5 linked regions of the Homo sapiens genome follow. The protein of the gene in region 1 interacts with the protein of each later gene in a pairwise test. Each region holds a gene or a part of one and is shown on either strand. Other genes may lie near its edges. The genes, in order: ADORA2A, SLC4A1AP, CHN1, POMZP3 and SLC25A39.

Region 1 (4,989 bases):
GGAAACTTCTTTGAGATCTCTATCCTGGACTTGAAGGATGGGTAGGGTTTCTGCCAGGTAGAGGGGAGTGTAGTCTGGTCTTGCCAGAATCAAAACTGTTAAACAGAAGTCATCCCTCAGTGATCATCAAGGTTGCCTTCCTAAATTAGGGAGACTTTTTTTTTTTATTGTCCATTCTTTCATGAAATCTAGGCCACCTTTCCTACAGGGCTGAGGTCTGCTTACTGGCTGGCAGATCCAGCCATTTCCCGAGTATGAGACTGGGAGTCGGTAGGCTTGGATTTCTGTCTGGCTCTCACTCAGGAAGACTGAGTGATTTCGGGCAGATTACTGTCCCCCTGGACCTCAGTATTTCCTTGCAAATGTTAAGATGGCCATGTAAATGTTAACAAGTAATTCTCTCATTTCTCTCCAGAGGGCTGTGGGTGGGTTTGGAGGGGAGAAATGGCATCTCCTTTGGCCTGGGACCTCCTCCCCTCTTTTACCCTCCATGCTGCCTCTCCTCAAGGGCTTCTGGAGTCCCCAAGTCAAATGGCAAATGGGGAAGAGAAGACAGGGTATGGAGTACAAGAGGCCTAGATCCTCTATAGGTCTGATCTGGCTGGTGCTGCCCCTAGCCAGTAAAGCCACCCTCCAGACCCCTTCAAGCCTGTTGTAGCCTTAACCAAGATCAACCAACATGGAGGTGACTGATCTTGGTTAAGGCTGCGACCAACATGGAGGTAATTGATCTTGGTTAAGGCTACGACACGTTTCCCTTTAGAGAAAAATCATGTTTTCCCCCTCAAAAAATCATGCGTTAATTTCCTCCAACCAAACTAAGTCCCAGGACTACTCCGAAAACTACTCAATGACCATCTGGGCATTTGTACATGGGTTTCCATTTCTTGGATGCCTGCTCTCCTGTTACCTCCCAGAAGCCTGTGAAAAAGGCAAGGCATATTACTTCCACTTAACGGAAGAGGATGCTGGGGCGAGGTGGCAGGAAATGACTGGTCCAAGACCTTACAGTCAGGAAATGTGGAAACGGGTGCTGCTCTGGGGTTCTGAACTCTTGGCCCTGCTTAACCCTGGCTTCTCAGATCTCTGATGCTGGTCTCTTCTCCCCAGGTACAATGGCTTGGTGACCGGCACGAGGGCTAAGGGCATCATTGCCATCTGCTGGGTGCTGTCGTTTGCCATCGGCCTGACTCCCATGCTAGGTTGGAACAACTGCGGTCAGCCAAAGGAGGGCAAGAACCACTCCCAGGGCTGCGGGGAGGGCCAAGTGGCCTGTCTCTTTGAGGATGTGGTCCCCATGAACTACATGGTGTACTTCAACTTCTTTGCCTGTGTGCTGGTGCCCCTGCTGCTCATGCTGGGTGTCTATTTGCGGATCTTCCTGGCGGCGCGACGACAGCTGAAGCAGATGGAGAGCCAGCCTCTGCCGGGGGAGCGGGCACGGTCCACACTGCAGAAGGAGGTCCATGCTGCCAAGTCACTGGCCATCATTGTGGGGCTCTTTGCCCTCTGCTGGCTGCCCCTACACATCATCAACTGCTTCACTTTCTTCTGCCCCGACTGCAGCCACGCCCCTCTCTGGCTCATGTACCTGGCCATCGTCCTCTCCCACACCAATTCGGTTGTGAATCCCTTCATCTACGCCTACCGTATCCGCGAGTTCCGCCAGACCTTCCGCAAGATCATTCGCAGCCACGTCCTGAGGCAGCAAGAACCTTTCAAGGCAGCTGGCACCAGTGCCCGGGTCTTGGCAGCTCATGGCAGTGACGGAGAGCAGGTCAGCCTCCGTCTCAACGGCCACCCGCCAGGAGTGTGGGCCAACGGCAGTGCTCCCCACCCTGAGCGGAGGCCCAATGGCTATGCCCTGGGGCTGGTGAGTGGAGGGAGTGCCCAAGAGTCCCAGGGGAACACGGGCCTCCCAGACGTGGAGCTCCTTAGCCATGAGCTCAAGGGAGTGTGCCCAGAGCCCCCTGGCCTAGATGACCCCCTGGCCCAGGATGGAGCAGGAGTGTCCTGATGATTCATGGAGTTTGCCCCTTCCTAAGGGAAGGAGATCTTTATCTTTCTGGTTGGCTTGACCAGTCACGTTGGGAGAAGAGAGAGAGTGCCAGGAGACCCTGAGGGCAGCCGGTTCCTACTTTGGACTGAGAGAAGGGAGCCCCAGGCTGGAGCAGCATGAGGCCCAGCAAGAAGGGCTTGGGTTCTGAGGAAGCAGATGTTTCATGCTGTGAGGCCTTGCACCAGGTGGGGGCCACAGCACCAGCAGCATCTTTGCTGGGCAGGGCCCAGCCCTCCACTGCAGAAGCATCTGGAAGCACCACCTTGTCTCCACAGAGCAGCTTGGGCACAGCAGACTGGCCTGGCCCTGAGACTGGGGAGTGGCTCCAACAGCCTCCTGCCACCCACACACCACTCTCCCTAGACTCTCCTAGGGTTCAGGAGCTGCTGGGCCCAGAGGTGACATTTGACTTTTTTCCAGGAAAAATGTAAGTGTGAGGAAACCCTTTTTATTTTATTACCTTTCACTCTCTGGCTGCTGGGTCTGCCGTCGGTCCTGCTGCTAACCTGGCACCAGAGCCTCTGCCCGGGGAGCCTCAGGCAGTCCTCTCCTGCTGTCACAGCTGCCATCCACTTCTCAGTCCCAGGGCCATCTCTTGGAGTGACAAAGCTGGGATCAAGGACAGGGAGTTGTAACAGAGCAGTGCCAGAGCATGGGCCCAGGTCCCAGGGGAGAGGTTGGGGCTGGCAGGCCACTGGCATGTGCTGAGTAGCGCAGAGCTACCCAGTGAGAGGCCTTGTCTAACTGCCTTTCCTTCTAAAGGGAATGTTTTTTTCTGAGATAAAATAAAAACGAGCCACATCGTGTTTTAAGCTTGTCCAAATGAGAATGGCGTCTGAGTTCGTTTCCTACTCCATAGCTAGGCCTGTGCACACATACAGGCATGTGTTGTGTATGAGAGAGTGTGTGCGTATGTGCAGACACCCTGCCTGCCCCGGGGGCCCTCCCCAGGGTCCTGTCCTCGAGGGGACAGGCTGCCTGGCTGCACCACAATCCAACCTGCATTTCTATGAGGGCCCACAGGGGCTATGGGAGAAGGGGCTTTCCCCAGCAACTCCCCCCCTCCTTATCTTCCTACATCTTTAAGGGAAGATCTCTTTGTATGTTACCTTCTCAGAACTGTGACCCGCCACCTGCCCTGCTGCACCCTTTAGCAGAGGTCACAGAGGTATCCGCAAACAGATCTGGGCAGGGGCTACACGGCCTTCCCCTAGAATCCCCCTCCTTCTGTTCTTAACAAAAGAAACCCAGAAGGAAGGGGTGTTTTTGCTCTGACCCCGGCCTTAGGGGCCTCCTGCCTGAGGAGGTGGTGCCATCTTTCTGTGATGGCGAAGTTTGAGGCCTGGAAGGCAGTTAGCAACCTGCCCCTGCCTGAGGTTGGTGGAGAGCTGTGATTGTCCCGGTTTGGTCTCACTCACTCTGGGACTCCCGGAAGGAGTGTAAGAATGTCAAGGGTAATCCTCACACAGCCCTGTGAGCCCTGTTTTACAGATGATTAACAAGCCCAGAGAGGTTACATGATTGCTCCAGGTCACACAGCTAGTAAGTGGCAGAAGTGAACTTAAAACTCAGGTCTGTCTGACTGTAAAATCCATGTTCATTGTTTCCATTAACTTAATGATGAACTATTTGAACCGAACCAAAAAGTACAAAATAACATCATTTCCTCAGCACTCTGCTTAAGAACTGAAACATTACAATGTTGCATCTGACCCCTGCCCATCATTACCCTGCATCCTAGGCCTGGAAACAACCACTTTCCTGAATTTCATTTCTTTCCATTGCACTTCTTCTTCTTCTTTTTTTTTTTTTCTTTGAGACGGTTTTCTTTTCTCGCTCTGTTGCCCAGGCTGGAGTGCAGAGCAGTGGCACGATCTTGGCTCACTGCAACCTCCGCCTCCCAGGTTCAAGTGAATCTCCTGCCTCATCCTCCCGAGTAGCTGGGACTACAGGCACTTGCCACCATGCCTGGCTAATTTTTTCTGTGTTTTTAGTAGAGATGGGGTTCCACCATGTTAGCCAGGCTGGTCTCAAACTCCTGACTTCATGATCCGCCTGTCTCGGCCTCCCAAAGTGCTGGGATTACAGGCGTGAGCCACCGCGCCCAGCCCTTTCCATTGCACTTCTTTACACTTTTAGTATATGGATGCCTGCAAAACTATCCCAAAACCAACAAAGGATTGTTTTAGCTATCTCACTGTTATATCCTCAGAGGTCCTCTAGACTGGCTGCACAGGAGAAATACCTAGGAAGCTTCAATCAGCACCAAAGCCTCAGTCCCTTGCCCCAGAGACACTGGATTAATTGGCTAGGGTAGATCAAGTAATTCCCCAGGGGGTTCTTATGGACAGCCAGGACAACCTATAAGGAGCCACTGATACAAATGCACTGAGTCCACCCCCTGTCCACACCAGCTTCCTCCCTCCTAGGATCTGCACTGGCTGTGGGCTGAGGGTGGAACAGTGGCTGGGGTATGCCTGAGAAGACCAAGAGCACAGAAGCTGCCAGTCCTCATGAGCAATTGGTGGGAAGAGGCCAGAAAGAGAACTACAAAGGTAGGGAAGAATGAAATCCCGTCTCTCCAGCCTTTTCTGAGACCTTGGGAACCAGACTTTGAGTACTGAGCTAGATGGGTGTAGGCTTTGGGGCTGGGAGAACAGGGCCAGGGGCTCAGCAAAGGCTTCTAGGTACAAATGGGCCCTAGTCCTCCCAGGGCCAGCTCCTGCCTAGTGGTAGAGCACAGGCCTCCTCATGTCCTCAGGAGCTTAGGGTCCCATGTCCACACCCACCCCATGTTGGTTCCCACCGTCAGCAGGCCTGAGTGTAAGCACATGGGCAGAGACCTGAACATATGCAGGCATCATTCCTCTGACGATAAGAGAATACATTTGTGCACATATAAACATGCTAGGGGGCAGAGCCCACCTCAA
Region 2 (5,859 bases), on another chromosome or scaffold:
TGTTGTTATTATTATTATTTTTGAGATGGAGTCTCACTCTGTCACCCAGGCTGGAGTGCAGCAGCATGATCTCGGCTCACTGCAACTTCCGTCTCCCAGGTTCAAGCCATCCTCCTGCCTCAGCTTCCCTAGTAGCTGGGTCTATAGGTTGCACCACCCTGCACAACTAATTTTTGTATTTATTTATTTATTTTGAGATGGAGTTTCACTCTTGTTGCCCAGGCTAGAGTGCAATGGCGCAATCTCACCTCACTGCAACCTCTGCCTCCCGGGTTCAAGCGATTCTCCTGCCTCAGCCTCCCAAGTAGCTGGGATTACAGGCATGCACCACCATGCCTGGCTCATTTTGTATTTTTAGTAGAGACGGGGTTTCTCCATGTTGGTTAGGCTGGTCTCGAACTCCCAACCTCAGGTGATCCACCTGCCTCGGCCTCCCAAAGTGCTGGGATTACAGGCATGAGCCACCGCACCTGGCCAATTTTTGTATTTTTGATAGAGACGAGGTTTCACCGTGTTGACCAGGCTGGTCTCGAACTCCTGACCTCAGGTGATCCACCCGCCTTGGCCTCCCAAAGTGCTGGGATTACAGGCATGAGCCACTGCGCCTGGCCGTATCACGAATATTACATCAATACATTAATATGTATCAATACATTAATTGTGTATTTTGCTTTTTTTTTTTTAAAGTCTGAGTAGAGCATCATTTATTAATAAGGCTTATATTATATTTTTATTATTGCAAAGTAACTTATGTCTGGTTCAAAACTACCAAAAGGCTTATAATAAAATATACTTGTTCCTTGCCCTACCCATCCTCAGTCTTCTTCCCTAAAGGCTTTCAGTTTTTTCAGTTATTTATTCTGGCATTTAAAAACACCTGTATTTCTTGGCCGGGCGCGGTTGCTCACGCCTGTAATCCCAGCACTTTGGGAGGCCAAGGCAGGCGGATCACGAGGTCAGGAGATCGAGACCATCCTGGCTAACACGGTGAAACCCCGTCTCTACCAAAAATACAAAAAAAAAAATCAGTTGGGTGTGGTGGCAGGTGCCTGTAGTCCCGGCCACTTGGGAGGCTGAGGCAGGAGAATGGCGTGAACCCAGGAGGCAGAGTTTTCATTGAGCCGAGATCGCGCCACTGCACTGCAGCCTGGGTGACAGAGCAAGACTCCGTCTCAAAAATAAATAATTAATTAAATTTAAAAAAAAACAACAAACACCTGTATTTCTTTTCTTTTCTTTTTTTTTTTTTTTTTTTGAGATGGAGTCTCACTCTGTCACCCAGACTGGAGTGCAGTGGCATGATCTTGGCTCACTGCAACCTCTGCTTCTCGGGTTCAAGTGATTCTTCTGCCTCAGCCTCCTGAGTAGCTGGGACTATAGGTGCGTGCTCCACACCCAGCTAATTTTTGTATTTTTAGTAGAGACAGGGTTTTACCATATTGGCCAGGCTGGTGTCGAACTCCTGACCTCATGATCCGCCTGCCTTGGCCTCCCAAAGTGCTGGGATTACAGGCGTGAGCCACTGCGCCCAGCCTAAAAACACCTGTATTTCTAAGAACAAGAGTATGGTGTTATATTTTTAGTCACTTATTTTAGACGTTACCTGTCGACTCTGCTAAATTAGTATTTAGTATTTACGTGATTATGCTTATGCAAATATTAGTTATAACTGAGCAGTTTTATTTCTTTTTGTTTTTCCTAAGGGTAATAATTGCGTTTGCTTTTCATGTGTTTGGGGCTTTTTTGTATTTCTTGCTCATTCCTCCCACACCTTTCAGTAGCCTCACCACATCAAACAACTTAATGATTAAGTAATTTATCAGTTCTGATTTGTTTTGGAGACACTTTTTCTGAAGAGCACTATTTTTCTTTCAGGGCTTATTGCTCTGCAGATCTGCTACAGAACTGTCACCTGGGACTTAACTTTCCTATCATCCTTAAGATTTCTTTGTCCTTTCTCCAGGGTTGACTTTTCTGTTTCTTGATTCTCATATTCTCATATTTCTTGGTTTATTTCCTTGCACAGTAGTACATCCTTCTGTACTTTTAGCAGATTAAAAAGCTGGTACAACACTAGAGGGCATGGGTGATGATAGTCTTCAATGAATTTCACATCTTTCCTTTTCTTGGTCTACTCTCTTGTTTTGGTGGACATCCTCTAGTAGATTTCAGAGAAAGAGTGTATAGGAAATAAATTTTATTAATCCTTCTCTTCTGAAAATATAATTATTGTAGCTTCACTCCTGATTAATAGTTTGGCTGGGAATACAATTCTAAGTTGGAAACAATTTTTCTTATTTTACATTCAGTGTTGCTTTTGAGAAATCCTAAACTGTTCAGATTTTGATCCTATTGTATGTCATCTTTTTTTTCCGCCTTGCCAGAGCTTGTAAGAGTTTCCCTTTGTTCTAAAGGTTCTAAAACTATGAAGTACTTTTCTGTGGGTCTATTTTTCTTCATTTTTCTGGGTACTTGTTGGATCCTTTTGATCTAGAAACCTTGGCTGTTCAGGAAGTTTTCTGCAATTATGTCATTAATTGTTTCGTCCCTCTGTTTTCTATGGAATTTTATTATTCAGACATTGGACCTCTTGGACAGACCATTTAAGTTTTTTTTCTTCTTTTTTTCATCTGTATGTCTTTTCCTTCTTGAGAGATTTCTGCACCTTTATCTTTCTGTCTTCTCTATTTTGCCATCAAGGTTTTAATTTCTTTCTCTTTTTTTAAAGTTTTTAAAATCAGGCAGTCTTTCATGCCAGAGAAGGCTCAGAGACTCCAAGGTTTTAATTTCTAAAAGTTCATTTTTGGTTTTTGAATTGTCCTTTTTAAAACATAATATCCTCTTGTTTCATGGGTTGTAAATATCTCCTCTCTGTTTTCTCCATGTTATTTTTCTTTTTATGTGGTCTCTGTTCTGCATGTTAAAGGCTTTTCTTAGGTGTCATGTAATTCTTCATTGTAGTTTTTTTATTTGGGGATGAAAAAGGTGATTGACAGTTTGGAATATATAGGTGGGGTTTCTGCATGGAATATATAGGTGGGGTTTGTTGACTTTGAGCAGTACTATTGAATGATGTGGGTGGGCCTTTTGTTGGGGAACCCTTGATTTAAGTATCCTTTTGGTTTTCCTCGTCTGTGAGCGAGATTCCCCAGAGAGTGCTCTTCCAATCTCCTGCCTGAAACGAAAGGACTGGCTGCCAGCATTCCTAGAGCTAAGTGGTAGAAGGTGGCTGAGTGGCTTCTCATTCAGCTGTTTTCAGGACAGTACTATTTTTAGATTATAGTGCCCATGCCTTCAACTTTACTAGTCAACTCGTAATCCAAAGGCTTTCTGTTTTACCCTTTCCAGAGATTAACCTCTGGATTTCTACTGCAGATGGAAAGGAGATGAGTAGGCAGGGAGGAAGATCTATTTCTCAACCAGTTTTTACTTAGTCCTCCATAACCTTAGTATCCATCCCCAGTTGCAGATCCGTTTGAGGATTCTGCAGTGTAATCACTTTGGCTCTCAGCTTTCCCCACTGTTTAGGATTTATCTTTTTAAATTCTGCTAAGTTAGTTTCTACTCATCTGTCTACTTTCTAATTTTCTAAAATTTGGGTCTTTATGAATTTCTTTCTCTCTCTCTCTCTCTCTCTCTTTCTTTTCTTTCTTTCTTTCTTTTTCTTTTCCTCCTTTCCCTCCCTTCTCTTTTTTCCTTTCCTTTCCCTTACTTTCCCTCCCTCCCTCCCTCCCTCCCTCCCTCCCTCCCTCCCTCCCTTCCTTCCTTCCTTCCTTCTTTCCTTCCTCCCTTCCTTCCTTCTCTTTCCTCTATGCTGCCCAGATTGGAGTGCAGTGGTCTGATCACAGCTCACTGCAGCATCAACTTCCGGGGCTCAAGCGATCCTCCCGCCTCAGCCTCCTAAGTAGCTGGGACTACAGGTGCACACCACCATGCCCAGCTACTTTTTTTAGATTTATTTTTAGTAAAGGCAAGGTCTTGCTATGTTGCCCAGGCGTGGGTACATCTCTTTACTATGGTTTATTGGGATTTAGGGAAAGAGGGAAATTAGATATGTGTGTTTAATGTACCATCTTAACCTGCAAATTAGGCTTATATTAATAAGGACTATTTTCCTTGCAAATAATAGAAGTCCAATTCAAACTAGCTTAGGGGAAAGGTCATTGGCTGCAGAAGCTGGGAAGAATAGCTCAGGATGAAGGAACAGGAGTGAAGGAACAACTGCATGAACCAGAACCTCAAGTTCTGAAACCATAACTTAGTACTACCAAAGTAGACTCAGCATCACCAGGACATATACAAGTTGTGTGTGTGTGTGTGTGTGTGTGTGTGTGTGTGTGTGTGTCTGTGAGTGAGTCTGTCTCACGAGTGCATTTTTAAACTTTGCAGACAGATTCTTACCCTGTGCTGAAAAGCTGATTGCTTACAGCCCTGAACTTAACAGTCTCTCACTTTAATAACCTCATTGTAAAGAGAGCCTCTTTGCCCCATCTCTAAATATAAATATGAGGGAAAGAGTCTTACTGATTTGGCTTTGGTCCTATGACTATCCCTAAACCAGATAAAATGGGGGAGGAATTTTCTAGGGGAAAGAGGTACTTTTATCAGAACAAAGGGAGTAGAATGTTGTAGGGTGAACAAAAAAGTAATAGCTGTCATAGTTTCTTATTGATGGACTCTTTACATATTCACTGTTATAAATACTATTGCATTGATATTTATAGAATAAATTCCTAGAAGTGGAATTGCTGGATCAATGCATTTTTAATGGCAGATATTGTAGGCTTGACCATCAAAAAGGTTGTATCAATGTACATTCCCACCAATTATTAATCTTTTTATGTTTTTCTAGTCTAATAGATGAGAAGTATCTAATTTTTAAATTTGTACTTTATTTTTTTTTAAAGTAACATATTTAAAAATATTTATTGTATTTTTCTGTGAACTGCTTTCATTATCCTTTTTCAAATTTTCTTTTGGGTTATTGTCCTTTTTCTCATTTTTCATTTTCCTTTTTTCCTCATTGATTTTTTTTTTTTTTTGAGATAGAGTTTCACTCTTGTCACCCAGGCTGGAGTGCAGTGGCGCTTTCTCGGCTCACTGCAACCTCTATCTCCCAGGTTCAAGCAATTCTCCTGCCTTAGCCTCCTGAGTAGCTGGGATTACAGGCACCCGCCACTATGCCCATCTAATTTTTGTATTTTTAGTAGAGACGGGGTTTCACCATGTTGGTGAGGCTGGTCTTGACCTCAGGCGATCCATCCCCCTTCAGCCTCCCAAAGTGCTGGGATTACCATGCCTGGCCATCCTCATTGATTTTTAAAAGCCGTTTGCTCATTAAATAAATTAACTATTTGCTTTAATGAAAAATTATTTAATAAGAAATTGTGGGAAAATATACATAACAGAAAAGTGTACCATTTTAAGCATTTTAAGAGTATCACTCAGTGGCATTAAGTACATTCACAATATTATGGAACCATCAACACTGTTCATTTTGGAACTTTTTTATCATTCCATACTGAAATTGGTATCTGTTAAACACTAACTTCATTCTCCCTCCTTCCCAGCCTCTGGCAACCACCATTCTACTTTTCTGTCTCTATGAATTTGACTACTTTAGGTATCTCACATGATGCAGTAAGTGTCCTTTTATATATGGCTTATTTCACTTAGTATAATGTCTTCAAGGTTTAGCCCTTTGTTTTTATACGTAGTTTGGCAGCTTGTAGAACCTCTCTTTCAGTAGTTGATGGTGACATTTTAAGCTCCTTGCCTACTTGCCTTCTTTCTTTTTCTTTTCTTTTTTAAAAACTTATTTATTCATCATTTTATCTACCTCTAGTATCTCGGAAAAGG
Region 3 (5,859 bases), on another chromosome or scaffold:
CATTGTCTAGGATATTACCTAGGAGTAGGATTTATATGTTGTAGGGTATGTATATATTCAACTTTAGTAAATAATACAAAACCCCTTTGTTAAACAATATTGCAGGTACTGGTTATATTAACTGCTCTGTATCCTTGCTGGTACTTAGTATTGTTAGGCTTGTTAAATTTTGCCAGTCTGAGGATTTATTTGCAATTACTGGACTATTTTGTGAGCACCAGTTCTTGGTGTAGGTCTGTTTTCATCCATTGTGTAAATGTGTGTTCTTCCATTATAATAAAATTTTTTGAGTTATCGCTTTGATTCCTTTCCCTTCCATTTTGTCTCTTCTCTCTTTCTATAAATGTTAGACTTTCAGGCCGGGCTCGGTGGCTCACGCCTGTAATCCCAGCACTTTGGGAGACCGAGGTGGGTGGATCACGAGGTCAGGAGATCGAGACCATCCTGGTTAACATGGTGAAACCCCGTCTCTACTAAAAAAATACAAAAAAATTAGGCAGGCATGGTGGCGGGTGCCTGTAGCTCCCAGCTACTCGGGAGGCTGAGGCAGGAGAATGGCGTGAACCTGGGAGGCGGAGCTTGCAGTGAGCTGAGATTGCACCACTGCACCCCAGCCTGGGCGACAGAGCGAGACTACGTCTAAAAAAAAAAAAAAAAAAAAAGAAGTTAGACTTTCTGGATTGATTCTCTATCTTAATTATTTTCTCTCCTTTTTTTTATCTTTTTGTCTTTTTGTTCTTTAAAATTTTCTCAACTTTTTTAAAAAAACTTTCATTTATGCTATATTCCTTTTTCTACTTATTTTTCTATATATTCTATATTCCTTTTTTTTACAGGATTCTAATGTTTTTTGGTTAAATTCTATTCAAGAATAGGAACAGGAAACATCTTATTTTGGGTTTTTTGAGCATATTTTCATTCCCATGCATGATTTTGTTTCCTCTAACTTGCTTTGATTCTGTTTGTTTATCATAGTCTTTGTCTTTCATGAGGGGAGTTTTCCTCAGATGTCAGGTGGCCCTTGGCTGACTGCTCATATTGAAGCATATGGGACCCTAAAAGGCTGGCTAGTAGTTCTGAGAGCTTGGAGGAAGCCTGACAATTATAGGATGATGGTCTCTACTCTTAAGTCTTTTTTTGTTGAGTTGATCAGATTTCCAAGAGTAGAATCTTTCAGTCTCCTATCAGGAAAGGTACAAGCCTTCCGATAGCCTCATGGTGAAGAGAAATGGAGGTATCAGTTTCTTTAGTATTTAAATTTTGGGTATTTAAAACTTTCACTTAGTTTTCAAGATGATACCTCTGCTTGTATTCCCTCAGTTCACTATCTCCCTGTTTTATCCTGCCTAGAAAACAGAACTTAAGTCTTCTGCCATGGTGGTGAAGGGATAACAATAGGGACAGGATTAGGGAGGGCAGGAGGAATATCTAACTGCTTTTTAAACGGACTTCGAGTTAATCCTTCTATATCAGTTCTACCTTCCAGAGCTATGTGAGTTCCACTGTTCAGAAGATGGCTTCTTTGGAAGTTTAGTTAGGCAAATTGGATTTCTTCTTCACTGAAAATGATTTATTTGGCCAAGGAAATATCATTATGTGTTGACATAATTTAATACTTTTCTCCATAATCCAAAATTGTATAGCAAGATAGACAAAAGTCATAGCCTGACAAAGTTTTGGATGGGATATCATTTTAATGTTGTATATAACTATGCTCTCTCTTCCATAGCCTTCCTTAGTTCATAGAATTCATCTAAATTTATTTTGTAGTACTTAATCGAATGCATCATCATATTTTATTTCTGTTTTAAATTTTCTTCCAAGAGTATCTTATGATTGAATGAATGTATATTTATATTTCACCATTAGATTAGCTTTTTTGACTCTGGTAAACAACAGACAAATATATATTTATGATAAATAAAACTGTTTTTGTATGTTGGTTGCTGGAAATACTTCTAACATTTTATTGTAAGCTTAGACGAGTGTGTTGTATATGTTTTGTTTTCTGTTTGTTAACACAAAACATCTGTTAGCTTGGAGCTTTCCTTTGAAGAGATCCTTTCAAATCACTTTGGCCTCAAATTAGAATTAATTCTTGGTTTTGCATAAAGTAAAGTAAAATTCCGAAAGCTATTCTGTATATATTTTGTCATCATTTTTTCTTCTAGACTGAATTTTTTGTCGATATGATTTATTTGCTGAAAAATAGAAAAGATGGTATATTAAGGATTTTGTTTATTTTTAAAAAGATGTTAGAATTGTATATCTTGAAATGCATCTGAATGCATCTGGGCACAGCATTAAACAGCTTTTTAAAATAGGAAACCCGAAACCTGGAATCACTGGAGAAAGATATTCTTTCTAGAAAGTGGCATTATGTACAACAGTAGCAGTTAAAAGCCTTTCTTTTCTATTTGTTTACTATAGTAACACTCTGGAGAAAATGAATTTTCATCTTGCTGAACTCTACCTAGGTGAGAGTTGGGCCTATGCAGCTTCAAGTATGTTCACCAAGGAATAAACAGCTATTAAGCAAGGGCAGAGTCAGATAATAAAAGGAAAAGATGAAAAGAAAATTATCTTATAAAAGTCAAAGGGAAATGATTTAGCCTCAACAGTTTTTACAAATCAATGCTCTGTAGTCTAGGGTTCAGTAGCTGTCACTAGGTCCACTTAATATGTCCCGCTTTCAATATATGTAAATCTCTCAGCTTTCTCCTTTGAATTCAGAGGCCTCATTCCCAGGACACAGTGGAAAGACCTTCTTTGCTTGCTCCTCCTACCCGATTTGCACTCTGTTGTCTTCCCACTCTATTTAACCAAGTGGCAAATACAAACTTATTCAGAGACATCCAGGAGAAAATTTCACAAAGAGCTCCTCCTTGCCTTTTGTTAACTGTAAAGTAAATCAGTGCAGAGATGTTCCTGTACAGCCAGTGTTGCCAGTTATTTATTTAGCCATCTTCCATGCATATCTATTGAATATTTTTGCTGTTTTACTTTAGTGTTGGTAACTCATTCTGTCATTCTCTGCAGGGGCCTAAGCTAACAGAGAAGGAGAAAGGGAACTACCACTCGAGCCTACTATATATATTTAGCTTTGACTTAAATATCTTCATGTAATCCTCACAGCCATCTGGGGTAGGGTGATGTTATTCCTATTTTTTAGATGCAGAATCTGACGAATGATTTCCCCAAAGTCACCCAGCTAGGAAGTGGCAGATCCAGGATTTAAACTTACAACTGTCTGATGCCAAAGCCTAAGGTTTTCTCTTAAACATATAGGACCCACATTTGCCTTCCCTTGGCCAAACCATATTTCAAGACTACAGGAGAAGACTGCAAGGATGCTTTTGTACTTGGACATAAGCAGTAGCTCTGAGATCTTATGTAAGCCTAATTGTTGTGCTCTGTTTTACTAGGCAGTGAGTTTCTTGGTTTTATGGTATGAGGGAGATACTGGATTCACTTGGTTTTGTGAATCACTTTACAGAATCTTTCTACATAAGAGCAAGATTCTATATGTATATAGTTATTAAAATAGATCAATCTGAAGACGGACTTTTTTTTTTTTTTTTGAGATGGAGTTTCACTCTTGTTGCCCAGGCTGGAGTGCAATGGTGCAATCTTGGCTCACCACAACCTCCACCTCCCAGATTCAAGCAATTCTCCTGCCTCAGCCTCCGGAGTAGCTAGGATTACAGGCATGCGCTACCACGCCCAGCTAATTTTGTATTTTTAGTAGAGACAGGTTTCTCCATGTTGGTTAGGCTGGTCTCAAACTCCCGACCTCAGGTGATCCGCCCGCCTCAGCCTCCCAAAGTGCTGTTATTACAGGCGTGAGCCACCGCACCCGGCAAGATAGACTTTTTTAAATTTAGCACTTTGTGTATTTGTATTGACCTGTTTTATCTTTTTACCACTGGGGTTACCAAGCGATAGGAACTCTATTGTGAACCACCTAATACTTGACAGTAAAGTACCTGGATGTTTTGTTAACTATTTGTTGAATAAATGACAGTCTGCAAGCAGTGAACTTCAAGGAAAGAGTCTTTCTTTGACCTTAGATTTGGAATCTCCCCCTTTATGGCTCTTCTTATGTAGAATGGGCACATCCATTCCCACCTTTCTCAAAGATTTTCTGTCTTCTTTCTCTTCTTCTAATCCCACAAAGCACAATATGCCTTTCAGATAAAGAAAGTGGAGAAATCTTTGACAGTCTGTGCTGTGGTGCTGTTCCTAGGTAACTTCCCAAGTAAAAGAGAGTAGTTCAGAGTAGGCCAGGAAAGCTTGGCAGTTCTCTTAGTAAAATATAATGCAGTTTTTCTTTAAAAAGATCAATCATAATTCCAAAATGGAAATTTTTTATTTTTACCCTTTGAAGCAAAGTTTTAATCAAACCATGTTATAAGTTTTTTGGTTATGTGATCATCTCCCTTTAGACTGAAAGTTTTATTGGATTGGAAGCCTGGAGCTGAAGTACAGGCGGAGCAGGAATTGGAAATTGTGGGCAGGGTCTCCTGAAATCACTGAGTTGAGAAAGAGAAAAGGATAAATAGGGTTTTTTGCACAGCTCCTTACAGGTAGCCAGGCCTCTTCTTGGATGAATTAGGCATCGTCCATTGGAAAGAACTAGGAAGTTAACTCTAGACTTCCTAGTTCCTAGTCAATCAAACCATTCCCAGTGCAGCCATCTTCCCTTCATGCCCTGTGCCCCCCATACTTCTCAGATTTCAAAAGGCAATTGAGTACTAAATGACTGACACCATTGCTTGGATTGTTTTTAAGTTCTGTATCCACTGTAGAAATGCCCACTGTAAAATCGTAAGTCCCAGCAGGAGTAAAATGGTCTGAGCCCTCATTGAAATGTGTCTGATACAACCGAAATATAAAGGGACTCAATGCTATGTGTGTTTATTATTGTAGGAGTCTTATAAAAGCTATGGAGTTGCTTTCCATGTTGCAGATAATGTATATTAGAAAAAAAGGAAATGATGAAAGCAGTATATTAAACTGAAAAACTTTTATATTTAACTTTGGTGTAGAAATTTCACCTGTCTAATTTTTTAGGCTTTATAATGAAAATATACTTGGGAGAAATGTGTCTTTAACATTAGAGGAAAATGGAGAACAAGAAAGTGTAATTATATGGATAGTTCACTTAAGTGTAAATCAAAATTTGATTGTTACTAAAGGATGGATAAATTATGCTTTAGAAGGGCCAACATGGATAGTACGTTGGATTCTAGATTAAATTGTTATTAAAGTCTAATTTGAACTACAGAAACAGACATCGTCTGGCTATTATTTTAAAAAATATTTTATTTCCTTTCCATACTTTATTTCCACATTAAGATGTTCCTAACTCCTATTCATTTGGAATATAACCTATACCAGAACAATTTTGTTATATAACAAGTTTATAGTCCCATTTAACGCTTTACTTAAACAGCGTTTATTTTAGTATTTTAGTTCATCCCTGTTCTGTTGTACTTTTAACAATGAAATTAAATATATCCTTTGTGACTTGTTTAGTTTTTAATTAGTCTCACTCGGGGTTACCTTCAGGAGACCATTACACTGGCAGCTCTTGTTGCCTTGTTGCCTTTTGACATCTGCTTTCATTAAAGTCAGTGCATTTTCTTGCCTGTGTCTTCCTGCAAGGACACTGATGTTAATCATGCCAAATTGGATCCATTTCTGAGGTCTGCTGCAGGAAGCAAAATACTGAAATTATCATAAAAGTAAACCATTATTCTTCAGTTGTTAGAGCACATCATCAGAACATAAAATTGAAAACAGAATTTCTATAGTCCAATAGCTTATGACTTTTGTGCCGTATGTATTTCAAACATT
Region 4 (6,604 bases), on another chromosome or scaffold:
TCTTTTGGTTATATGTGTTACGTTGTTTTTCCCAGTCTTGGCTTGTCTTTTAGATGTGTATCTTGTCTTTTCCCATACAGAAGTGTTAACTTTTTGTGTGTGTGTGATCTCACTCTGTTGCCCAGGCTGGAGTGCAGTGGTGCGATCTCAGCTCAGTGCAACCTCTGCCTTCTGGGTTCAAGCGATTCTCCAGCCTCAGCCTCCTGAGTAGTACTACAGGCACATGCCACCACACCAGGCAAATTTTTGTGTTTTTTTTTAGTAGAGACTGGGTTTTACCATGTTGCCTAGGCTGGTCTCGAACTCCTGAGCTCAAAGCAATCCACCAGCCTCGCCTCCAAATGTGCTAGATTATGTGTAAGCCATCACTCCCGGCCCAGAAGTACTAACTTTTAATGTAGTCATATTTATCTATATTTCCTACATGACTTGTGCCCTTTGTGTATTCATCTCTTTACCTCTAAACACAGGAGTGCCCCGAGGGCTCAGGCTATGGACCTCTCTATTTACATTAATTCTCAGTCATCTTGCTTGGTTTCAGGACATCTGTACCCTGACGGCTTTTATGTGTAGCTCCTCCACTTAACTCCAGCCACACACAATAGTTCAAAGAGCCCCTACTGACCTAGACACTATGTTTCTTCTTCCCCTATTACCCAGGTTTCTTGAGTAGGGAGTCTGCAGTCACTGCCTCCATTTCTTCACCTTCCAGTCACTGTTCAACCCAGGGCAGCCTGGCTTTTGTCCCACTAGTCTACTGATACTGAGATTTTTTTCTTAAGCAACACAGTCCCCCCTCCGCCCCCCCCCCTTTTTTTTCAAATTAAGTCTTATGTGAAATCACAGTATATTAAATAGAAGAATTACTTTGGCACTGGGTTGGGGAGGATCTGGAACCCAAACTGCACCTTCTTCTCATCTCTCTGAGTTGCCCCAGAGGCATCTATACCTTTCCAACTTTTCTATCCCCAAAACACCCTAATCTCCAGCGATACTGAACAATTCCATCTCTGGACTTCTGCACAGTGCTCCTTCATCTTCCTTGAACCTGCCAGACCTCTCAGCTCCAGGAGCACTTCCCTGCCTTCCTTCCCCTTTATCACAACTTTTTTTTTTTTTTTTTTTTTTTTGAGATGGACTCGCTCTGTCGTCCAGGCTGGAGTGTGCAGTGGCATGATCTCGGCTCACTGCAACCTCCACCTCCCGGACTCAAGCAATTCTCCTGTCTCAGCCTCCCGAGTAGCTGGGACTACAGGCACGCGCCACCATGCCCAGCTAATTTTTGTATTTTTAGTAGAGACGGGGTTTCACCATATTGGTCAGGCCGGTCTTGAACTCCTGACCTCAGGTGATCCGCCCGCCTCCGCCTTCGAAGTGCTGGGAATACAGGCATGAGCCACTGCGTCTGGCCTCTTTTTTTGTTCCCGTTATCACACTGATAACATTGAATTGCAATCTTTTACTTACACATCTTCCTTACTAAACAGAGCTTATAAAGATCAGAGATCCTCTATTTTCCCCCTTAATCTCTTTAATGTATATAAACAATGGAATGAATAAATCAATGAATGAATGTCTGAGGAAACTTAACTACACCAAAGTGTATTGGCAGACTACCAGACTTTTTAAACAGCTTTATGAAGATATAATTCACAAACCATACAGTTCATAGGGTGGTGCAACCGCCAACACGATCTAATTTTAAACTATGTTTATGCTGCTACGAGAAAGCCTATACCCATAAGCAGTCATTTTCTATTCCCCACCCCCAAACCCACTCCTTAGCCCTAGGCAACCACTAATCTACTTTCTCAGACCGATAACTTTAGCATAGGTATAAATCGATCACAGAGCCTCAAAATCCACCCGATGTCTGGGCCATGATGTGAAATTTGGTAGGTAATCGTCCCACGTTATCAACTTGTAAAGTAGAAATGGAAGTGGGGGGGAAAACTCAGCCGCCAGTGGCGTTTGTGAAAAGCACCTGGTAACAGGCTGTGCTGGAGGGGAGTTCAGCCCCTAGAAAAGATCACGGATTAGGAATTACATAAGCATAGGTCTCGGGCCCTTTTATTTTGGACGCGATCCTTTCACGGGATCGCCTCCGGATGGGAGCCGGATGGGATCCCGGACGGGATCGTCTCGCTGGGAGCCATGCGGGAAACCGCAAGAGTCAGAAACAGGCGTTGAAGGCAGGCAGCATTTTCCAAAACAGCTGTGTCTCGGGAGCTGCCGGGCTGTAGCGTCTCCCCGAGTCGCGCGCGCATGACGTGGCGGGCGCGCGATGACGCGACGCGTGGCGCGGTGCACGCTGGGATATTTAAGTCTCCTCCGCGGCGCGGAGCCGCGATGTCTCCGGCGGCTGCGGCGGCTGGAGCAGGCGAGCGGCGGCGGCCGATAGCGAGTGTCAGGGCCGGCCGGGGCGGCGCTTCTCGGCCTGTCGCTGGTCGGCCTCCTACTGTACCTCGTGCCTGCTGCGGCTGCGCTGGCCTGGCTGGCCGTGGGGACTACCGCGGCCTGGTGGGGACTGAGCCGCGAGCCCCGAGGTTCGCGCCCCTTGTCCTCCTTCGTTCAGAAGGCGCGACATCGGCGAACACTGTTCGCTTCGCCTCCGGCCAAGTCGACAGCCAACGGAAACCTCCTAGAGCCGCGGACCCTGCTCGAAGGACCTGACCCTGCCGAACTGCTCCTCATGGGCAGTTACCTGGGCAAGCCCGGGCCGCCGCAGCCCGCCCCCGCTCCGGAGGGCCAGGACCTGCGGAATAGGCCTGGCCGCCGCCCGCCCGCCCGGCGCCGCGCTCCACACCGCCCTCCCCGCCGACCCATCGCGTTCACCACTTTTACCCCTCTCTCCCCACTCCTCTTCTCCGACCCTCCGGGAGGCCTTCCCCACGGTGAGATGCGCTGATTTTCCCAGATCATCCTTTGGCTCGGCTGGCTTGAAATCGAGGACTTTTAAATCCGATTTGCTTTTTCATCAAATCCGAAGGGAATTGTGTGTGGTTTTGCCCTCCTTAACACCTTGGTGTGTGCCAGCCGTCTCCTGGCCTCTGACTCTTGCTTGGTGTGAGATGTGTTGCCAAAACGATTCCCTTCTTTCCAGTTCTAAAAACTCCCCGAATTTTAGTGCAGTCTAGATTTAGTCTAGATTTAGATTTTCCCTCTCAAATTGTTGCAATCCATTGTTGAGACAGCTGTTAAGCAGCTGTCACTCTCTGCTCTTAGATGGAATAGGGGAAAGTTGCCATAAAAACAACGTGTTCTGTGTTGCGTAGAAAGAGACTTAAGTTCTTTGGAAAATGTCTTAACTGGTGGGTTTTTAACCGTCTAAAATTTTGACATTCTTTTATACTTTGTTTCCATGATTTGTCTCGCATTCTCTGCAGGGATCGTGGGACTTTACCAGATCGGTTTGTAATAACACCTCGAAGACGCTATCCGATCCATCAGGCCCAGTATTCCTGTCCGGGGGTACTTCCCACAGTGTGCTGGAATGGTTATCACAAGAAGGCTGTGCTGTCCCCTCGCAACTCCAGGATGGTGTGTAGCCCAGTGACTCTGAGGATCGCCCCTCCTGACAGAAGATTTTCGCGTTCTGCGATGTGAGTATTATCGTTGGAAGAATACTCTCCCTTTTCGTGTCCACTTTATTCTTCTCCAGTTGTTCCTATGACAACATGACTACAACGCAAAAAAGAAAGGACGAATCTGCTTGTTTGAATGAGAAATACCAAATTCTAGTAAAACCGTTTGTTTTTCACTTTTTGCCGTTAACGAAAAAGTAGCTTTACTTGCTAAGGGGAACTGTTGTGAGTGTATAAATTATACTTTGGCTTGTTGGTTAGCTTCTGATTTCCATTTCTGATATGGCATGGGAATTAAAATATCTTACTGCTAGAATCCTGTCTTTCATTATAGACCAGAGCAGATAATCAGCTCAACACTGTCCTCACCATCAAGTAATGCCCCAGACCCATGTGCAAAGGAGACTGTACTGAGTGCCCTCAAAGAGAAGAAGAAGAAAAGGACAGTGGAGGAAGAAGACCAAATATTCCTTGATGGCCAGGAAAATAAAAGAAGGTAACAGGCTCAGGAGAGTACTAAGCCAGTTTCCCGCTTGGACTCCTATGGGATGAGATGTAGACATTCCCGTAAAGATACAGAGGCCACCTCCAGTTTGTGAGCCTTCATAGGCCTCCTTCTTTGGCTTTCATGAAAGAACCTAATAACAGGGGTTTTAATGCTGATCATTTCAAGGCACAGGTTAGATCGATGTCATAATTTACCTTTTCTGTGAGTAGCAGAGATAAGCTGACAGCTATTAGCCATGTTAGCCTCATGCTTCTGTAGAAACGTGTTAAAAGTTTATTTTCAAGAAAGAAGGCTCTAAGTCTTCTGGTCGGAATTTTGTGGTGTTCAGTTATTTGGGTAACCACCAGTTCTAGTGTCTTTTTTTTTTTTTTTTTTTTGAGTTGGAGTCTGTCTCTGTCCCCCAGGCTGGAGTGCAGTGGCCCGATCTCAGCTCACTGCAAGCTCAGCCTCCCAGGTTCATGCCATTCTCCTGCCTCAGCCTCCCGAGTAGCTGGGACTACAGGCGCCCGCCACCATGCCCGGCTAATTTTTTTGTATTTTTAGTAGAGACAGGGTTTCACCATGTTGGCCAGGATGGTCTCGAACTCCTGACCTCGTGATCTGCCCGCCTTGGCCTCCCAAAGTGCTGGGATTACAGGCTTGAGCCACGGCGCCCGGCCCACCAGTTCTAGTGTCTTAATTGTGCTGAAGGAAATGCTTGGGAAAGAAAAATGAAAACTAGAGTTTGGTAGTTTTATCAGTAATGAGATTAAAACCAATTTCCTGGAAGGGCAAGGTGGCTCACGCCTATAATCCCAGCACCTTGAGAGGCCCAGGCAGGTGGATCACCTGAGGTCAGGAGTTCGAGACCAGCCTGGCCAACATGGTGAAACCCCGTCTCTACTAAAAATACAAAAATTAGCTGGATGTGGTGGTAGGTGCCTGTAGTCCCAGCTACTCCAGAGGCTGAGACAGGAGAATTGCTTGAACCCAGGAGGCGGAGGTTGCAGCGAGCCGAGACCATGCCAGTGCATGCTAGCCTGGGTGACAGAGCGAGACTGTCTGAAAAAAAAAAAAATTCCTTATGTGGTTTGTAAAATAACCTAATGAAAATGGAATAGTTTTCTAATTACAGAAAGAAAAGAAGTTGAAGTGGGTTTCGCCATGTTGAGCAGGCTGGTCTCGAACTCCTGACCTCAGGTGATCAGCTCGCCTCAGCCTCCCAAAGTGCTGGGATTACAGGCATGAGCCACCACGCCTGGCCGAAAATCTTATAAATAATCCCCTTCTAATTTCGGCCAGCTTAATCACACACCAAATTCCTTTCATGAGATTAATCTTCCACAACTTCTACACTTCCTTAAATCTTTGATTTTGTCCTATACTTTTTTTATATTAGCAATCTACTTTAGGACAGAAATTTACTTTCCTTTCCTCTTGATTTTGACCAAAGTCCTCTCTCATGCAAAATAAAAAATTACTCTTTTTTCAACTTTCTTTACCAAAAATACATCCTCATAACTTTTTTTCACGTCTCTCCTACTTACTGGCCTTCTTCCCACCTTGTTTCTATTTCCTTCCTAAATCCATATTTTGAAACAATCTTTAAATAACCCCCAACTTAAACAAAATTGCTCTTATTTAACAAAAAACTTATCTCAAAAAACCTAGCACGGTCACCAAGCGTGCTTTGCTTTTCTTTCTCTCTCTCTCTCTTTCTTTTTTTTTGGAGGCGGATTCTCGCTCTGTCAGCCATGCCGGAGTGTAAATGGCACGATCTTGGCTCACTGCAACCTCCGCCTCCCAGGTTTTGAGAGATTCTCCTGCCTCAGCCTGCTGAGTAGCTGGGATTACAGTTGCGTACCATCACAGCCAGCTAATTTTTGTATTTTTAGTAGAGATGGGGGTTTTGCCCTGTTGGCCAGGCTGGTCTGAAACTCCTGACCTCAGGTGATCCACCCACCTCAGCCTCCCAAAGTGTTGGGATTACAGGCATAAGCCACCGCACCAGGCTTGATCCCTTTTCTTGAACAACTTATATATCCCAAAGCAACACACCAGAATATTCATTTACAATGAGAATGAAACTATCCCCACAGGAGCAACAAGAACTGCATGCTGGGTTCTGGACAGAAATAGAGTTATAATTAAGCATTCATCAGGCTGCATTTTGGCCTACTTCCTTGTTGCTAAAAGTCAGGTGGCACTAGTTCCTGACCATTGCATACCATTGTTCCTATAGATAGGATTTCTGACATTAAAGAGTCATAAGACTGTTTTAAGAATTTATTTGGGGATCTCCTGGGGCTGTATCACAGGGGGAAAAGTGAAATAAAAAAAAAAAACCACAATCAATTTGGGCTGGGTGCGGTGGCTCACACCTGTAATTTCAGCACTTTGGGAGGCTGAGGTGGAGGGATCTCTTGAGCCCAAGAGTTAGAGACCAGCCTGGCCAACATAGTGCAACTCCATCTCTACCAAACAAAATATGAAAATTAGCCAGGCATGGTGGTGAGTGCCTGTATTCCCAGCT
Region 5 (6,458 bases), on another chromosome or scaffold:
CAGGCACGTTGGGGGGTCTAATGCTGACTCTTTCATTTGAGTGACCTTGGGGCGATTTGACCTTTGGGGCCCCCCTTTTCTCATCCATAAAACGGGAGAGTGTGTGCAGGGAAAGTCTGGGTTCTCCTCCACACGAGTAAAGTCACTACACACAAGAGCCCTCAGTTTCCTCCCCTGTTCCGTAAACCAAAACGTCTAAGTTGTAAAGAACCTTGGCGGAGAGTAGGCTTTCACCTTGACCGATAGTTTATTTATTTATTTATTTATTTATTATTTTTTGAGACAGAGTCTCCCTCTGTCATCCAGGTTGGAGTGCAGTGGTGTGATCTCGGCTCACTGCAGCCTCGACCTCGCGGGCTCAAGCGATTCTCTGGCCTCAGCCTCCCAAGTAGCTGAGACTACAGGTGCGCACCACCACCGCTGGCTAATTTTTGTATTTTTAGTAGAGACGGGGCTTCGTCATGTTGGTCAGGCTGGTCTCGAACTCCTGTCCTCAGGTGATCCGCCCACCTCGGCCTCCCAAACTGCTGGGATTACAGGCGTGAGCCCGACCTTGACTGATAGTTGATTAAATTATTTCGTGTCATTTCTGAACTCAGCTTGAGATGGGAAGGGAATGGAAAGGACGCCTTCTCTCGGGCCCTTTTGCCCAGCGCCCCTTTACAGGTCACAGATTGCACTCTCCCTGCTCCCAAGCTGGAGTTTCAGAGCTGTGGGGGAGCTCAAAGGCATTTTGTCAGGGAAAGCTGATAGTTGGCCCCTCGGAGTCCACGTGCTAACCCGGCAGGCGCCGGCTGACTGGGCTCCTCCAGCGCCGGACGCGACCAGTGGGGGCCTGAAGGGCGGGGAAGGCAGAGACGTCAAAGTCGAGGCCTACCCTTCTTAAAGGCGCAGGCTAGGAGTACCCATCTCCCCGCCCGCCCCCCCCCGCCTCCACCCGCCCGCCCGCCCCCCTCCGCCACCGCCCGCGCGTGCTGGTTTCTCTGTTAGGACAAATAAGCAAGATAGCACAGAAGTTCTAAACGCGAAGTGGGTGGTGGGGCCTGGGGTACGGGGCTGCCCCGGGAAATAAAGTGTCTCCCTGACAAGCGGGATCGGAGAGGGCAGCGCTGGACTTAAGCCTTCCTGTCTCCCGGGGAGGCAGTGTGGAGCCCTGGGAAAAGCACCCGGCCGGTTCGAATCTCCGGCTCTTCACGTCGAGCCTCAGTTTCACTTTCTGTAAAACGGGGTAATCTATTTCTTTTTCAGACGGAGTTTCGCTCTTGTTGCCCAGGCTGGAGTGCAATGGCGCAGTCTCGGCTCACCGCAACCTCCGCCTTCCGGGTTTAAGCGATTCTCCTGCCTCAGCCTCTCGAGTGGCTGGGATTACTGGCATGCGCCACCACGCCCGGCTAATTTTTTGTATTTTTAGTAGAGACGAGGTTTCACCATGTTGGTCAGGCTGCTCTCGAACTCCTGACCTCTGGTGATCCGCCCGCCTCGGCCTCCAAAAAGGCTGGGATTACAGGCGTAAGCCACTGCGCCCGGCCTTTTTTTTTGAGACGGAGTGTTACTCTGTTGCCCAGGCTGGAATGCAGTGGTGCGATCTCGGCTCACTGCAACCTCCGCCGGCCGGGTTCAAGCGATTCTCCTGCCTCAGCCTCCCGAGTAGCTGGGATTACAGGCGCCAGCCATCATGCCCGGCTACTTTTGTATTTTTAGTAGAGACGGGGTTTCACCATGTTGGCCAGGCTGGTCTCGAACTCCTGACTTCAAGTGATCCGCCCGCCTCGGCCTCCTAAAGTGCTGGATTACAGGCGTGAGCCACCGCGCCCGGCCTGTGGTAATCTATTTCAACAATAACCTACTGCAAAGAGTTTTGAGACTCAGAAGAAATCACGATACGAGAGCAACCAACACCAAAACGTCGATGCCCTCCCGCACTCAGTGCTCTTCCTCTCCGCGCAGAGTCATTCCGGGCCTTAGGCGAGGTTGTGATTTGCCCAAGGTCACGCGAAGGTGGGATCTGGCTCCCCATGGCTCTCCCGTCTCCCCCGGCTTGCTCACGTCCCAGCCCGCCCGGCCCGGGCTGCAGCTCAGCTAACCCAGTGGCGCACACCCGCGCGGGGCCCTGTGGTTTACAAAGCGTTTTGCAGTTGCAGGCCTGTCCTGTAACCTGAAAAATGGGGGCGATGCTAAGGCCGGCGAGAGAAGTCGCCGCGAAGTTTTCAAGTCTCGGCGGGTAGCCCGGCAAGTAACTTCGTCGTTATTGTGTGGTCTCCCGGCGATCTCGAAGAACTCATTCTCACTGCCGCCGCCACGCACCTGAGGACACCGAGGAAGAGGGCCAGTGCGTCACCCTCGCCGTCCAGAAGGCGCTGGGGTTTCCAGTGCCGCGCGCGGCCGGGGCGGGGCTGGTGAAAATGCGCTGTTAAGGCCGGCGCGGCGGCTCACGCCTGGAATCCCAGCACTTTCGAAGACCGAGGTGGGCGGATCGCTTGAGCCCAGGAGTTCCAGACTAGCCTGGGCAAAATAGGGAGACAAAAATAAAAGTAACAAACCAGCCGGGCGTGGCGGCGCGCGCCTGTGGTCCCAGCTACTCCGGAGGCTGAGGCAGGAGGATCGCTTGAACCCGGGAGGTCAAGGCTGCAGTGAGCCTAGATCGCGCCACTGCCCTCCAGCCTCGGCGACAGAGCGAGGCTGAAAAAGATGCTGTCTAAAAAAAGATGCTGGAAGTGCGTGCTGCTGCCACGTTAAGCGCGACGTGGAGACCGCGAAGTTGGCCGGCAGCTCTCAGCGCTGGACAGGCATGGAACTCGCCCGCGCGGCCCCGTCAAGGGGGCGGGACCGTCGCAGGTCCGGGCGGAGACGCGAGTGGGCGGAGCCGGGGACACTCCGGGCTTGCGGCTGGTCGGCCCGCGGCGGGCGGGGCCTCGTGGCGCGGTGTAGGGGCGGGGCCCCCTTGGCTGCTTTCGGCGTCGGCCTAGGTGCGCTGCGAGCGCGCGCGGACCGCGCACAGGCGGCGGAGCCGGTATGGGCCCGCCTGACCCTGGGCGCCGCGCCGCACGAGCACCAGCCTAGAGCCAGGTAGGCGGCACTGGGCCGGGGCTGGGGGCGGAGACGGAAGCGGGGGTCTCCGGGCGGCCGTGCGAGCCAGGGCAGGTGCTGGGGCCGTCGAGCTGGCGTGGTCCCCCTCACCTGGCGGCTCTCCGCCGTTCGGGGCCGGGAGTGTCGCCGAGGGTCGGGGAGACGTCCTGGTCCTACGTTCCTACTTCCCGCTCTCCCGGCTGCGCCCCGGGCCTGCATTTTGGGGCGGGAACCCAGAGACTGCTCTTTCTCTCCGGGCCCCGGGTCTGGCCCGTCCGGCCGGGCGGGGAGGGCCGGGCATCCCAGCCCGCAGTCCTGAGGAGGCGACGGGCCCTTCTTGGTCACCGGATCTGTTTACACGTCACCCTCGATGCCCGGCCGTCCCTCCACGCCCAGTAACTTGGGCTCTCAGGTGCCTGCCCGGGGCCTTGGTGCTGGAGTGGGGGCTGTGGGGGCAGCACAGGTACTCTGATTTTGGGGCCACGAGGGCCAAATCCGCGCCTGCACGTAGGAGGTGCGCAGTGGACACGTGCGAGGTGGACGAGGGAAGGACCCTGGCTCCTACTGCATTCGAGCGATAGGTCTGGCACCCTAGCTTCCTTCGGAACCACTCCTGAGTGACCTTGGGCAGGCCACCTCGTCTCCCCGAGCCTTAGTTTTCCCCGGCGGAGGGGGGCGGACAGTCCCTGCTTTAGAGGTCATTGCCAGGGTTGTTGAGGCAACAGATGTTTCGAGGGCGGTGGATGAGGGTTGGGTTAAAGTCTCACAGTGGGCCGGGTGCGGTGGCTCACGCCTGTAATCCCAGTGCTTTGGGAGGCTGAGGCGGGCGGATCACGAGGTCAGGAGATCGAGATCATCTTGGCCAACATGGTGAAACCCTGTCTCTACTAAAAATGCAAAAATTAACTAGGCGTGGTGGTGCGCGCCTGTAGTCCCAGCTACTTGGGAGGCTGAAGCAAGAGAACCGCTTGAACGGGGGTGGATGTTGCAGTGAGCCAAGATGGTGCCACTGCACTCCAGCCTGGCAACAGTGCGCAGAGCGAGACGCCGTCTCAAAACAAAAGTCTCACAGTGGCCCAGCCTCCTTTCCTGCCATCCCTGGAGTTGTGGTCTGTTTGAGGTTTGGTTTTCAGGACTGAAGCTTCAAGATGGCTGACCAGGACCCTGCGGGCATCAGCCCCCTCCAGCAAATGGTGGCCTCAGGCACCGGGGCTGTGGTTACCTCTCTCTTCAGTAAGACCTAGGGGAGGTGGGGTGGGGGCGGGTGGGGATGGGGCAGACCGGAGATTGGAGGCTGTGTGGTCCTGGGGGAGGAGTCCTAGGGGTGGGGTCCTGAAAGGAGCCTTCAGACCCGCTTCCTCCCCCAGTGACACCCCTGGACGTGGTGAAGGTTCGCCTGCAGTCTCAGCGGCCCTCCATGGCCAGCGGTGAGTACCTGACCTGGAACTAGTGAGGGGTGGTGCCTGGGCAAAAGAAAGATCTCCCAGAGGCTGGCCGTGGTTTCTCATACCTGTAATCCCAGCGCTTTGGGAGGCTGAGGTGGGTGGATCACCTGAGATCAGGAGTTCAAGGCCAGCCTGGCCAACGTGGTGAAACTCTCTCACTACTAAAACTACAAAAATTAGCCGGGCTTGGTGGCATGCGCCTGTAGTCCCAGCTACCTGGGAGGCTGAGGCAGGAGAATCGCTTGAACCGGGAAGGTGGAGGTTGCAGTGAGCTGAGATTGTGCCACTATGCTCCAGGGTGGGCGACAGAGCAAGACTCCATCTCAAAAAATAAAATAAAAAGATCTCCCAGAGATGGGGTCCCTAGGGCGGGTGGGGGCTCTCCTGACTTGAGGGGCTGCCTTGTATTTTAGAGCTGATGCCTTCCTCCAGACTGTGGAGCCTCTCCTATACCAAATGTGAGTGCCCCAAGCCACAGGGAGCATGGGAGGGTGCAAGGGGGAGACAGTCCTTGTCCCTGTCCCCAGGGCACCAGTGGGCTCCACAGCCATGGACTAGCATATACTCCCAGGTCCTGCCAGCCAGTCCTGTGACCTGCACCAGAACATCCACACAGGGACCTGGCCTTTACTGGCCTTCCAGGGATAGGGGCCCACTGCCTCCCTGCAAGGTTCTAGGATCCTGTCATTATAATGCCCCCTGCCTTTCCCCAGTGCCCTCCTCTCTCCAATCCACAGGGAAGTGCCTCCTGTATTGCAATGGTGTCCTGGAGCCTCTGTACCTGTGCCCAAATGGTGCCCGCTGTGCCACCTGGTTTCAAGACCCTACCCGCTTCACTGGCACCATGGTGAGGAGCAGCTGGGTCCGTAGGGATTCGTCGGTGTCCGTGAGGAGTTCGGTCTGGCTGGGCAGCAGACCCAGGAGTAAAGGGATTGGGCAAGGCACGCAGAGGTAGCCGGTTCCGTCAGGAAGTGCTTCCGGAGAAGGCAGTACCTCCATGGGGTGTTTGTTTTCTTTTAGACAGAGTCTCGCTCTGTCACCCAGGCTGGAGTGCGGTGGTGTGATCTCAGCTCACTGCAACCTCTGTCTCCTGGGTTCAAGTGGTTCTCCTGTCTCAGCCTCCGAAGTAGCTGGGATTACAAGCGTGCACCACCACCTGCCGCTAATTTTTGTATTTTTAGTAGAGACAGGGTTTTGCCGTGTTGGCCAGGCTGGTCTCGAACTCCTGCCTCAAGTGATTTATCCGCCTTGGCCTCCCAAAGTGCTGGCTGGGATTACATATGTGAGCCACCGTGCCTGGCCTCCATAAGGTTTTTGAAGGGTGACCAGGTGTCCGCCTGGACCCAGCTGCTGGGGTACTGCATGTGTAGAGGCAGGGAGGCCTGAGGGCTGTGGGCAGAGGCTGAGGGCGTCAGGCAAAGGCCTAGCCTGGGCCAGCCCCATCACAGACATCACTTGTGTCCCTCCTCTTCCCCTGGGCTGGTGCCTGCTTGGCCAGGATGCCTTCGTGAAGATCGTGAGGCACGAGGGCACCAGGACCCTCTGGAGCGGCCTCCCCGCCACCCTGTGAGTAGCCGGGTCCTGCACCACTCTCCTCTGGTACTTCCTGACCCTTTGCTCCCTGTTGAATGGCTAGGTGGGGCAGGTGATGCTTTAAAAGTTTGGGTCCTTTTGGGAGTCCCAGCTAACCTCTCTCTGTATCCCCAGGGTGATGACTGTGCCAGCTACCGCCATCTACTTCACTGCCTATGACCAACTGAAGGCCTTCCTGTGTGGTCGAGCCCTGACCTCTGACCTCTACGCACCCATGGTGGCTGGCGCGCTGGCCCGCCGTGAGCATAGTCTTGGGCCTTTGACCTCCCTCTGTCCCCACCTCGGCCCAAACCCAGTCAGTCCCAGCTCCCAGCCCCAACCTCTGCCAGCCTAGGGATAGGGGGGTGTTCTAGG

Evidence for each region.
Region 2: the proteins of ADORA2A (region 1) and SLC4A1AP interact in a two-hybrid assay, tested with the Homo sapiens proteins (one large-scale study listed by BioGRID and IntAct).
Region 3: the proteins of ADORA2A (region 1) and CHN1 interact in a two-hybrid assay, tested with the Homo sapiens proteins (one large-scale study listed by BioGRID and IntAct).
Region 4: the proteins of ADORA2A (region 1) and POMZP3 interact in a two-hybrid assay, tested with the Homo sapiens proteins (one large-scale study listed by BioGRID and IntAct).
Region 5: the proteins of ADORA2A (region 1) and SLC25A39 interact in a two-hybrid assay, tested with the Homo sapiens proteins (one large-scale study listed by BioGRID and IntAct).

What each region holds. Positions count from the first base shown.
Region 1 is NC_000022.11:24,439,473-24,444,461, forward strand, and holds the end of ADORA2A (adenosine receptor A2a), read left to right. Parts: exon of another isoform or gene 1-95; intron 96-1,110; coding exon 1,111-2,017; 3' UTR 2,018-2,885; downstream 2,886-4,989. UniProt on the Homo sapiens protein: Receptor for adenosine. The activity of this receptor is mediated by G proteins which activate adenylyl cyclase.
Region 2 is NC_000002.12:27,669,687-27,675,545, forward strand, and holds part of SLC4A1AP (kanadaptin), read left to right. Parts: intron 1-5,845; coding exon 5,846-5,859.
Region 3 is NC_000002.12:174,878,769-174,884,627, reverse strand, and holds part of CHN1 (N-chimaerin), read left to right. Parts: intron 1-5,859. UniProt on the Homo sapiens protein: GTPase-activating protein for p21-rac and a phorbol ester receptor. Involved in the assembly of neuronal locomotor circuits as a direct effector of EPHA4 in axon guidance.
Region 4 is NC_000007.14:76,622,998-76,629,601, reverse strand, and holds the start of POMZP3 (POM121 and ZP3 fusion protein), read left to right. Parts: upstream 1-2,322; 5' UTR 2,323-2,894; exon of another isoform or gene 2,895-3,386; 5' UTR 3,387-3,537; coding exon 3,538-3,602; exon of another isoform or gene 3,603-3,681; intron 3,682-3,918; coding exon 3,919-4,080; intron 4,081-6,604.
Region 5 is NC_000017.11:44,321,319-44,327,776, reverse strand, and holds the start of SLC25A39 (mitochondrial glutathione transporter SLC25A39), read left to right. Parts: upstream 1-2,953; 5' UTR 2,954-3,066; exon of another isoform or gene 3,067-4,199; 5' UTR 4,200-4,214; coding exon 4,215-4,299; intron 4,300-4,433; coding exon 4,434-4,493; intron 4,494-4,924; coding exon 4,925-4,969; intron 4,970-5,224; coding exon 5,225-5,358; intron 5,359-6,009; coding exon 6,010-6,077; intron 6,078-6,218; coding exon 6,219-6,343; exon of another isoform or gene 6,344-6,458. UniProt on the Homo sapiens protein: Mitochondrial transporter required for glutathione import into mitochondria. Glutathione, which plays key roles in oxidative metabolism, is produced exclusively in the cytosol and is imported in many organelles.